2 linked regions of the Homo sapiens genome follow. The protein of the gene in region 2 interacts with the protein of the main gene of each other region in a biochemical or structural test. Each region holds a gene or a part of one and is shown on either strand. Other genes may lie near its edges.

Evidence for each region.
Region 1: of the proteins of PYY (region 2) and MEP1B, one has a biochemical effect on the other in vitro, tested with the Homo sapiens proteins (one study listed by BioGRID).

The regions. Positions count from the first base shown.
Region 1 is NC_000018.10:32,206,028-32,210,538, forward strand, and holds part of MEP1B (meprin A subunit beta isoform 1 precursor), read left to right. Parts: intron 1-1,224; coding exon 1,225-1,443; intron 1,444-2,091; coding exon 2,092-2,244; intron 2,245-4,473; coding exon 4,474-4,511. UniProt on the Homo sapiens protein: Membrane metallopeptidase that sheds many membrane-bound proteins. Exhibits a strong preference for acidic amino acids at the P1' position. Known substrates include: FGF19, VGFA, IL1B, IL18, procollagen I and III, E-cadherin, KLK7, gastrin, ADAM10, tenascin-C.
Region 2 is NC_000017.11:43,951,274-43,956,428, reverse strand, and holds PYY (peptide YY isoform 1 preproprotein), read left to right. Parts: upstream 1-2,488; 5' UTR 2,489-2,579; intron 2,580-2,945; coding exon 2,946-3,133; intron 3,134-3,239; coding exon 3,240-3,320; coding exon of another isoform or gene 3,321-3,324; exon of another isoform or gene 3,325-3,448; coding exon 3,449-3,473; 3' UTR 3,474-3,696; downstream 3,697-5,155. UniProt on the Homo sapiens protein: This gut peptide inhibits exocrine pancreatic secretion, has a vasoconstrictory action and inhibitis jejunal and colonic mobility.

The DNA.
Region 1 (4,511 bases), on a different chromosome or scaffold from region 2:
CTGGAGTGCAGTGGTGCGATCTTGGCTCACTGCAACCTCCACCTCCTGGGTTCAAGTGATTCTCCTGCCTCAGCCTCCCGAGTAACTGGGATTATAGGCGCCCGCCACCACACCCGGCTAATTTTTGTATTTTTAGTAGAGACAGGGTTTAAACATGTTGGCCAGGCTGGTTCATTGTGCTTTAAATACATCTACACCTATTCCAGTAACCATGAATTATGGTTAGTCAATAACTGCATGTCAATGCTTTTTAATGACTCCTCTGTAGGATAACTAGAAAGTTATCATTCCCAGGTTTCATCTCACCATCCCTTCAAAGCCTTCTTACTTCCATCTCCATCTACTGTGGACGTCCTCAGCCTGCCATCGTTGCTGGCCAATGCCCTGACTGGTTCAACAACACTTTTTTTTTTTTTTTTTGAGACAGAGTCTTACTTTGTCACCCAGGCTGGAGTGCAGTGGCGTGATCACAGCTCACTGCAGGCTCGACTTCCCAGGCTCAGGCAATCCTCCCACCTCAGCCTCCGGAGTAGCTGGGACTACAGGCATGCACCACCATGCCTGGCTAATTTTTAAAATATTTATTTTATTTTATTTTATTTGAGATGGAGTCTCATTCTGTCACCTAGGCTGGAGTGCAGTAGTGCAATCTTGGCTCACTGCAACCTCCGCCTCCTGGGTTCAACCAATTCTCCTGCCTCTGCCTCCTGAGTAGCTGGGATTATAGGTGCGCACCACCACAATGGACTGATTTTTGTATTTTTAGTAGAGACAGGGTTTCACCATGTTGGTCAGGCTGGTCTCGAACTCCTGACCTCATGATCCGCCTGCCTCGACCTCCCAAAGTGCTGGGATTACAGGCGTGAGCCACCACGCCCGGCCTTAAAATATTTATTAGAGATGAGGTCTCACTTTGTTGCCCAGGCTGGTTAGCAGCACTTTCTAGAATCCTCCTTTCCACGAGCAATTTTTACAGCCTTAGACTAAATGCCAATGTCCTAACTATGGGCTGCAATAGAACCTTAGATATGTTCAGTGTGACTGCTGGTATCACAGTTCTAAGCTTGAATATTATATTGTAAGATGGGAATAATGAAACTGTTGTTAGTTGTAGCAAAAATTGCTTGAGTTTATTATATTCTCCATTTCTAAGTGAGCAGTATTTGGAGTAAGATAAGCTGAATTTTGTGAACATCAAGTAAAGATTTTTTATTTATCCTTTAGGCAGAGAGCACAATTTTAACACCTATAGTGACGATATATCAGATTCCCTGAATGTTCCCTATGATTACACTTCAGTAATGCACTACAGTAAAACTGCATTCCAAAATGGAACAGAGCCGACAATTGTCACAAGAATCTCAGACTTTGAGGATGTGATCGGCCAACGAATGGATTTCAGTGACTCTGATCTCCTAAAGTTGAATCAACTGTATAACTGCTGTATGTGACAGGTTCTTTGAAATGACTTATATTTTCCGCTGTTATGTAGGAAAAAATGATGGTCTGTGCCATTTTGTCAAGCATTGGTGGGGTTTCTGCGATTATAGAGATTTGATATTCAGGAAATAAACAGAATAGCACTCAGATCTCAATCTACAACTTGGAAGCAGCATTTTTCTTTTCACCACGTCTGGTGTTGAGATCTAAAAACAAATTGGGTCCTGTAGGAATATGCCTCAGGCAAGTTTTTAAAGCTGTTACTAATTCAAACCTCGGTCAGATTGATACTCACACTTCCTTTTAGCCAAAATGATATGTCTAGTTGTAATATGAATGGGATCAAATAATCTGGATTGTGGCTTAATGATTCGAATAACTAGGGGAGTATAGACTCAGGTTTCTACAAATTAGAAAATTTTTTTTAAAAAAGACTTCAGGCAGGGAGCTTATTCAGATCTACAGAATTCATTACCTTCTTTGTAGGGGTTCTGCAAATAAAGAGGGATCTTTAAGCCACCATCATCCAGAATCAGCTAGGTGTTCCCTGTAATACCAACCTGGCATTTCTAATACTGTGATAAGTTCAGTTTTTGTTACTTAGATTATCATGTTGTATGAGTGTCAATAATTGTTTTTTGCTTTTTGTAGCCTCTTCCTTGAGTTTTATGGACTCGTGCAGTTTTGAACTGGAAAATGTGTGTGGCATGATCCAAAGTTCAGGAGATAATGCTGACTGGCAACGGGTTTCACAGGTTCCCAGGGGGCCAGAGAGTGATCACTCCAACATGGGCCAGTGCCAAGGTAACAGGAGTGAGATATTCCTAGACTGTATACTCAGTGGCTACAGCCACATACTTCTCTATGAAAGAATGGGATTTTATCTCTAATTTCTATCAGAATTATTAATGATTATTCATTAGGTTACTACTGAGAAGTAGGCCTTGCACCTGATAAAGACATTGTTAATTTCTTTGCTTTTCCTTCCTGAGTTTATTTTTCTTTCTACAAGTCAGAGCTGGGCTCTGTGATGCCTCTACCAGTGCGTTCCCATAGGAGAGTGTACCAGACTGGGCCTCCTGCAAGGCCTCTTATCTCAGGGGCAGTACTATTGTTTCCTAGAAGTTTGCAGAATACAAGAGACTCTTTCCAATGGACAGCACTAGGCTGCGAATTATTGTTTCAGAACTGTAGCTGGATGTGATTATATGCTCCTGTTACAAAAATATCTAAAAAGCAGAGTTTATTTAATTTTCTTCAGATGCGTATCCTTTTCCATTTTCATTTTGTTTTGCCTTAAGTAGTTATTTGGCTACAAGGACCAAATTTTTACGTATTTGCTTATTCTGGCATCAAATATGTAAAACTAGACTTCAGAACTTAGGGCCAGTGCTTAATAGCTCAGATGATCTAGGCAGGAATTGGAGGCCTCTAATGGCAAAAAGGTGCTTTTCCTTTTATTTTTCTTTTTAAATGCATATTTGGATAGTGGATAGTGGTCCTACTCAGACCAGAGGAAAGTAGATAGGGAGGGAGGGGGAAAAGAAGAAGAATCCAGACCAGGTAGCTCTCACTTTTTTCTGTTTTTGAAAACTAATTTCTGTGGTAAGGGAAAGGTTCCCTAATGTTGTCTCTTTCATAAATCGCCTGCTCCTAGAACCATATTTAAATGCCCAACACAATTCCCTGCATATAGTGGAAACTAAGCGAATACTTGAAATAAGGTAAAGAAAATTGGGCCGGGTGCAGTGGCTCATGCCTGTAATCCCCGGCCTTTGGGAGGCCAAGGTGGGCGGATTACCTGAGGTTGGGAGTTTGAGACCAGCTGGGCCAACATGGTGAAACCCTGTCTCTACTAAAAATGCAAAAATTAGCTGGGTGTGGTGGTGCATGTCTGTAGTCCCAGCTAGTTGGGTGACTGAGGCAGGAGAATCACTTGAACCCGGGGGGCAGAGGTTGTAGTGAGCTGAGATCATACCATTGCGTATCAGCCTGGACAACAGAGTAAGACGTTGTCTCAAAAAAAAAAAAAAAATGAAAGAAAATATATATACACTCAAACCAGAATTACTAGCTGTGCCTTCTTTAGAGATGGCTTAGAAGGTTAAGTATTGCAGATAATGAAAGCAGATAAGTGGGAGGTGCCTCTGAAATTATCAGGTTCAGTTATTCTCAATTTTTTCATTACAAGTATCATTTTAAAAATATTAAAATGTGAATCTCCCCAGATGGTTGCTGTAGTTAACAATATCTTCTGAAAGTTGAATTTCTTTCTTCCTTTTCTTTTTTTCTTCCTTCTTTTTTTGTGACAGTTTGAAGCCAAAGAAGTTAGAAAGTGTTTAAAAAAAAAAGGGGGGCGGGCAGGTCAGCCAAGGCCCTGGTTTCCTGGCTGGACTCTCACCTCTGTCCGCAGTGTGTGTTCACCTTTCCAGAAAGACCTAGAAGTTCACGTTGAATTACCCTTGGGAGACACAGATGCTACAACTCTCTACCCACCCAAGTTTCAAACCCTCGTTTTGACTTAATTTCCATTTTCCTTTTTCATATTCTCAGCGGGGGAACAACCCTCTGTAGCATCTTTGTCCAATGGTAGCTCTTTCCACTTGGAGCTGGACCAGGGTTTTGGACACTTGAAAGGTGTCCCATGTAGAATCTACCTTTTAGCCCTGCTGTTTGGGCTTGACCTGCAGCCTTACAGTGGATTTTTAAAAAGTTAGCATTTGATACTTAAACTTGCTTTATCTTTATAGCTCATAACAAATGAAGATAAGCAAGGATTAGTGCCCACGGAAAACTACTATTGTAAGTAAACGTTTTATAAATAATAGAGAGGTTTGAGTTTTATACTGTTATGTCAATCTGCTAGCTTTTGCAAGTGCCAGATATGTAGCTTAGGCTTCTGTCATTTCTCCCTGGCGATTTATATATGGATGTTACTTATGCCTCGCGTAAAGAATCTAGCACCACCATTAACAAACACACATTCCTATACCCAGTATCTGTTTTTCTCTCAATTCTGCTTTTCTTTAACAGGTTCTGGTTTCTTCATGCATTTCGATAGCAGCTCTGTA
Region 2 (5,155 bases):
GATCGGGGGGTGGCTGAGCCCATTGATCGAGGGCTGAGACATTTTCCCCGCTAATCAACAAGTTAATAAGCTCTTCGATGAGGAGGCGGTGATTAATGAACCAATCAGCTTGCCCTGTAATTGGGGAGTGAGATTGGAGGGTGGGGGTATGAGGGATAGAGAGGGTTTGCGGGGATGTGCGGCTGGCTCCTGGTCCACACTGAGACCACCTAGGGGCCCATTTACTTTGGCTATAAATGAGGAAGTGACTTCTTCAGAGGTTGTAGCCCGAATTCAGGCCACCCCATGCCCTCTAGCTTCTACAGTGTCTCTCCTCTCTTCCCATCTGTCCTTGGACTCCACATTCCCCAAGACATGACAGGGTTCCAGGGATGTCAGATTCCCCATGGCCATCTCACAGTTTCCTTCGTCTCTGTCCAGAATCGGTGCACTAGAAATCCCCTACCAGCACCATGGTTAGTGCCGCCGCAGGGTCAGAAGAGCAAATAGCCCCCTACTCTCTGGTATCCTTGCCCCCGTTAGCCTGCAGGGTCCTTCTCTAGGCCCTGATCCCTGGGATCACAGATGTCCTAACCAGCCCCCACTGCTCCCTCCATCCTAGGGTGAGCACCTGTCTTTTGTCTTTCCATGGAGGAATGGAATTATTTGATTTCTGCTGTCTCCCCTCCAAACAGGACAAAGGCTGTCTCTGTCTCTCTGTATCTGTTCTGGGAACCGCTCATACTGGGGCTCCCCTATGACATGGCCATATCTCTCCTTTGAGACTGGGGTTCTTGAAGGGCAGGGGTGTGTCTTGCCCCCTGGATGAGGGCTCCCTAAGAAGAATGATTTTTCTCCTCCCTCCAAGGGCAGGATCTATGTCCCCTTGTCCTGGTGTCCTCTTCCACCCCCATGCTCAGCAGGGCACCCTGGTGTTTCCTGGGATGTGGAGTCCCATGGGGCCTGACTGGCTGATAAGGAGCCATTTCCGGAGAATGCAGGTGATTGAACCCATAAAATGGTGACAGAGAGCCCTGAACTCCCCATCTCAGGAGAGCTCTAAAAATAGCGCCCACAGCCATCTGTCCTGGGGCTGGAGGGGCTGGCTCAGAACCAAGGGCCTGGACAAGTTGGCCCCATCAGTCCCTATGGGCCGATGGGACATCTGGAAGTACTGGAGGTCTGGCGAGGCCAGGGAGAGGAAGCTGGAAGGGCTTTATGGGGAGACCTTCCCACAGCCCTTTCTCCTCCTGGGCAGGTGGGTTTGAGGGGGTTGGCAGTCTGAAGGTCCTTCCCCTACTCCGCCTCTCAGAGTGGGTGTGGGCCCTAGACTTAGTCTTCGGGTCCCTGCTCCCAGGCCTGCCTCTGGCGCCCCAATGGCTACTCCAGGTGCTGAGCCTTTCTGCCCCTCACAATTGAGAGGTCCTCTTCCTGGGTTCTGCCTCACCCTGCTTTTCCTGTTTGAATTGTGGGTGAGCTTGGCTGCTCCATCACCTCCCAGGGCTTCAGTTTCCTCATCTGGAAAATGGAGATAAACTCAGCTCATCGTCTTGTGATGCCCGAAATTATGCACTACCTAGTGCATAGTAGGTGCTTAATAAACACGAGTCCTTTCCTTCAAAGGATCTGGGCTTAGAGCCCAGTGGAGACTGCCATGGGCTGGGGACAGTGGCATGTGCCTGGGAAGCCTTGGCATCACTCAGGCCCAGAAGACACCAGTGCTCTGAATGACACCTGCATAGGGGTGGAGACACTCTGCCTTGGGAGGGGGCTCTATACCACACATGGCTGGACTGGGGTCTGTGTGTGCCAGTCTGGATACACAGGTGGCCGACTCAGCTGCTTCTGGCGGGGAGATTGGTTTCTGCCTCCTCCTGCCTCTTTTCCAACTCTTTAATAGAGAGAGGACATAATGGAGTGTTCAGAGAGGCCTCTCCCCAAGACACCATAAACTGCAGGTCAGGAGCCAAGGTCAGGTGCTCCCACCCTGCCTCCAGGAGAAAGACTTTCCCCAAAAGGTCCTGTCATTCCTCAGCCCTTCTCCAAGGTATTACTGAACAGAGGCTGAAAAGGGTTGTCTTTTGGAAAGAGTGGTCACACATCCCACGGACTGGAGGGAATGTGTCCACCCTCCCACCCCCAACTCCCATCCACGGACAGGCTAGGGAAGACAGAATCTCAACCCTGGTCCTAGGGGCTGCCCCAGGAGTCTAGATCCAACCGCTTCACTTCCTCAGGAGGCTAGACCTGCCACTGGGGGGCTGTGGGGTGAACATGGGGTTCAGGCTGGGTACCCCATCCAGTGAGACCACGAATCTGAGCATGGCAACTGCCCCCTCAGCTCCTGCGAGGTGGAGACATCACGCACTGGCTGGGTATAAGCTCAGCGATCTGGCGAGGGTGGAAGGAGGGAGGAAGAAGGGCCCACCCCCTGCTGGCTCCCCCTCCCCCTGGGACTCCCCCTCCCTTTCCAGGCGGGGATATAAGCCCCACAAGGAAAGCGCTGAGCAGAGGAGGCCTCAGCTTGACCTGCGGCAGTGCAGCCCTTGGGACTTCCCTCGCCTTCCACCTCCTGCTCGTCTGCTTCACAAGCTATCGCTGTGAGTGGCTGGGGGCTCAAGCCTGGGGAAACCCAGGCTGTTTTGTGGGGAAACTGAGGCTGGGATGGTGGAAGCTGGGGGTGAGTGGTAGGAAACTGGATTGGAGGGGGCCATCGGAGGTGGGAAGGAGGCCAGCAGCGGGGGTGGGGGTGGGGAGGCAGGCAGGGCTTATGCTCCTCTGACATGAGGAAACTGAGTCAGGAGACGGTGCAGTGCCCAAGAACACACAGCAAGCCCGGTGGCTGAGCCTTGGTCCGGTACCAGCCCCAGGGAGAGCGTCGGAGCGCGGCCCCGACGGCAGCCGCAGCCTCCCGCCGTGTAGGGTCGAGGCTTGGAATGACCCACGTCCCAATGTCGCCTTCCCAGATGGTGTTCGTGCGCAGGCCGTGGCCCGCCTTGACCACAGTGCTTCTGGCCCTGCTCGTCTGCCTAGGGGCGCTGGTCGACGCCTACCCCATCAAACCCGAGGCTCCCCGCGAAGACGCCTCGCCGGAGGAGCTGAACCGCTACTACGCCTCCCTGCGCCACTACCTCAACCTGGTCACCCGGCAGCGGTGAGCGCAGGCGCGGAGCGGGACCCCTGGGGCTCTCACCCTGCGGCCCCGCTCCACCTGGGGGCGTGGCCAGATCTGACCACGCTCTTCCCTTCCCCGCCCCCAGGTATGGGAAAAGAGACGGCCCGGACACGCTTCTTTCCAAAACGTTCTTCCCCGACGGCGAGGACCGCCCCGTCAGGTCGCGGTAAAAGCGCCCGTTACCACACATCCTGCATCCGAGAGCGCGGCCTGGCCCTACCCTGGCAACATCACTTAACGACGTCTCCCAGGCTCGCCTCCCCAGATCCAATTCCTTCCCCTTCGCTTCCGCAGGTCGGAGGGCCCAGACCTGTGGTGAGGACCCCTGAGGCCTCCTGGGAGATCTGCCAACCACGCCCACGTCATTTGCATACGCACTCCCGACCCCAGAAACCCGGATTCTGCCTCCCGACGGCGGCGTCTGGGCAGGGTTCGGGTGCGGCCCTCCGCCCGCGTCTCGGTGCCCCCGCCCCCTGGGCTGGAGGGCTGTGTGTGGTCCTTCCCTGGTCCCAAAATAAAGAGCAAATTCCACAGAAACGGAATGTATGCCTTTGTATTTCCTTTCCTTTCTCCTTCGTGGAGGTGGCATCCCGTAGAAGTGGAGGGTGGAGGCGTGGGGGCCAGGGAAGAGAAAACCGACTTGGACAGAGGCGCCCCAGGACAAGGCTGGGGCGGGCTGCGGAGTTCCCTCTGCTCGGAGCCCAGGGAAGACTCGACCACCCAGCCTGGAGCTGGACAGCGCCCAGGCCAGGAACTGCTGTGGAAGGAACTCTGGTCGAGTGGGGGCAGGAGTGGATGGAACTCTGGAAGAAGGGGCGGGGAGCGGCGACAGGAGCCTGCTAGGCAGCCTAGGAGAGCAGATGGGGTCAGGGCTGTCCCTCCCCCACCCCGTGAAGCCGAAGACGGCTGGGGGACGAGTCGGGCACCAACACCCCGGGGCGTTTCCCCAGGAGCTGTAGTACTAGCGCCCAGGGCTGGAGTGGCTGGAGGTGAAGTGTAATCCAAAATGGGGCTGTGGAGGAAGAGCCGTGTGGGGGTGAGATGGCTGTACGTGTGCTGGCCGGAGAGGCAGGCCATTTCTACCGTCCCCCTTTCCCTGAGTAGAGGAGCAATGGGAGTGTGGAGGCTGCCCTATCCCTAAGAAACCTCCCTCCCCAATCTCGCTGAATTCACACGCAGTGGATAAGTCACGAACTGTTCTTTCTTAGTGACAAGGCCATAGGGACACCCTCCATGTACCCCCCTCCCCTGGACTAGCTACTGAAGCCTAAAGGCTCTGTGGATGTTTAAACTGGAATCCAACTCGAATCCCTCACCACTCTGTACCTATTCCAGAGCCTGCCTGCAGACTGATCTCCCCTGACATCCACCCTTCCCTGCCCCTTTCCTCCAAGAAGCTTGCCTTGATTGCCCAATTGCACTCTTCCTGCCCTCTCTAACTGCCCAGCTCTCAGGGCCTCTGCTCTGTTCACTGAGAGTTCTATGTCTCTGTGTCCTGTCTCCCTCCTGGGGCCTCAAGAAGGAAGGGCCTATGTCTCCTTCCTGGGACACAGCCTCCTGTATCTGTGGGCTCTCTTCTGGGACTCCAGTTCAGCAAGACCTGCCCAAATCTGAAGCAGGGCACTAGGAGATGAGGGGGGAAATCAGGTTGACTTCAAAACCTGTGACCCAGAGAGGGGAAAAACGACAGGAAGGCTGGGGGCATCCTTGCAGCGGATCAGGGGTTTTTTTGTTTTGTTTTTTGTTTTAGAGATGGAGTTTTTGCTTTTGTCGCCCAGGCTGGAGTGCAGTGGTGCGATCTTGACTCACTCCAACCTCCACCTCCTGGGTCCAAGTGATTCTCCTGCCTCAGCCTCCCGAGTAGCTGGGACTACAGGTTCTCACCACCACACCTAGCTAATTGTTGTATTTTTGGTAGAGACGGGGTTTCACCGTGTTGGCCAGGATGGTCTCAATCTCCTGACCTCGTGATCTGCCTGCTTCGGCCTCCCAAAGTGCTGG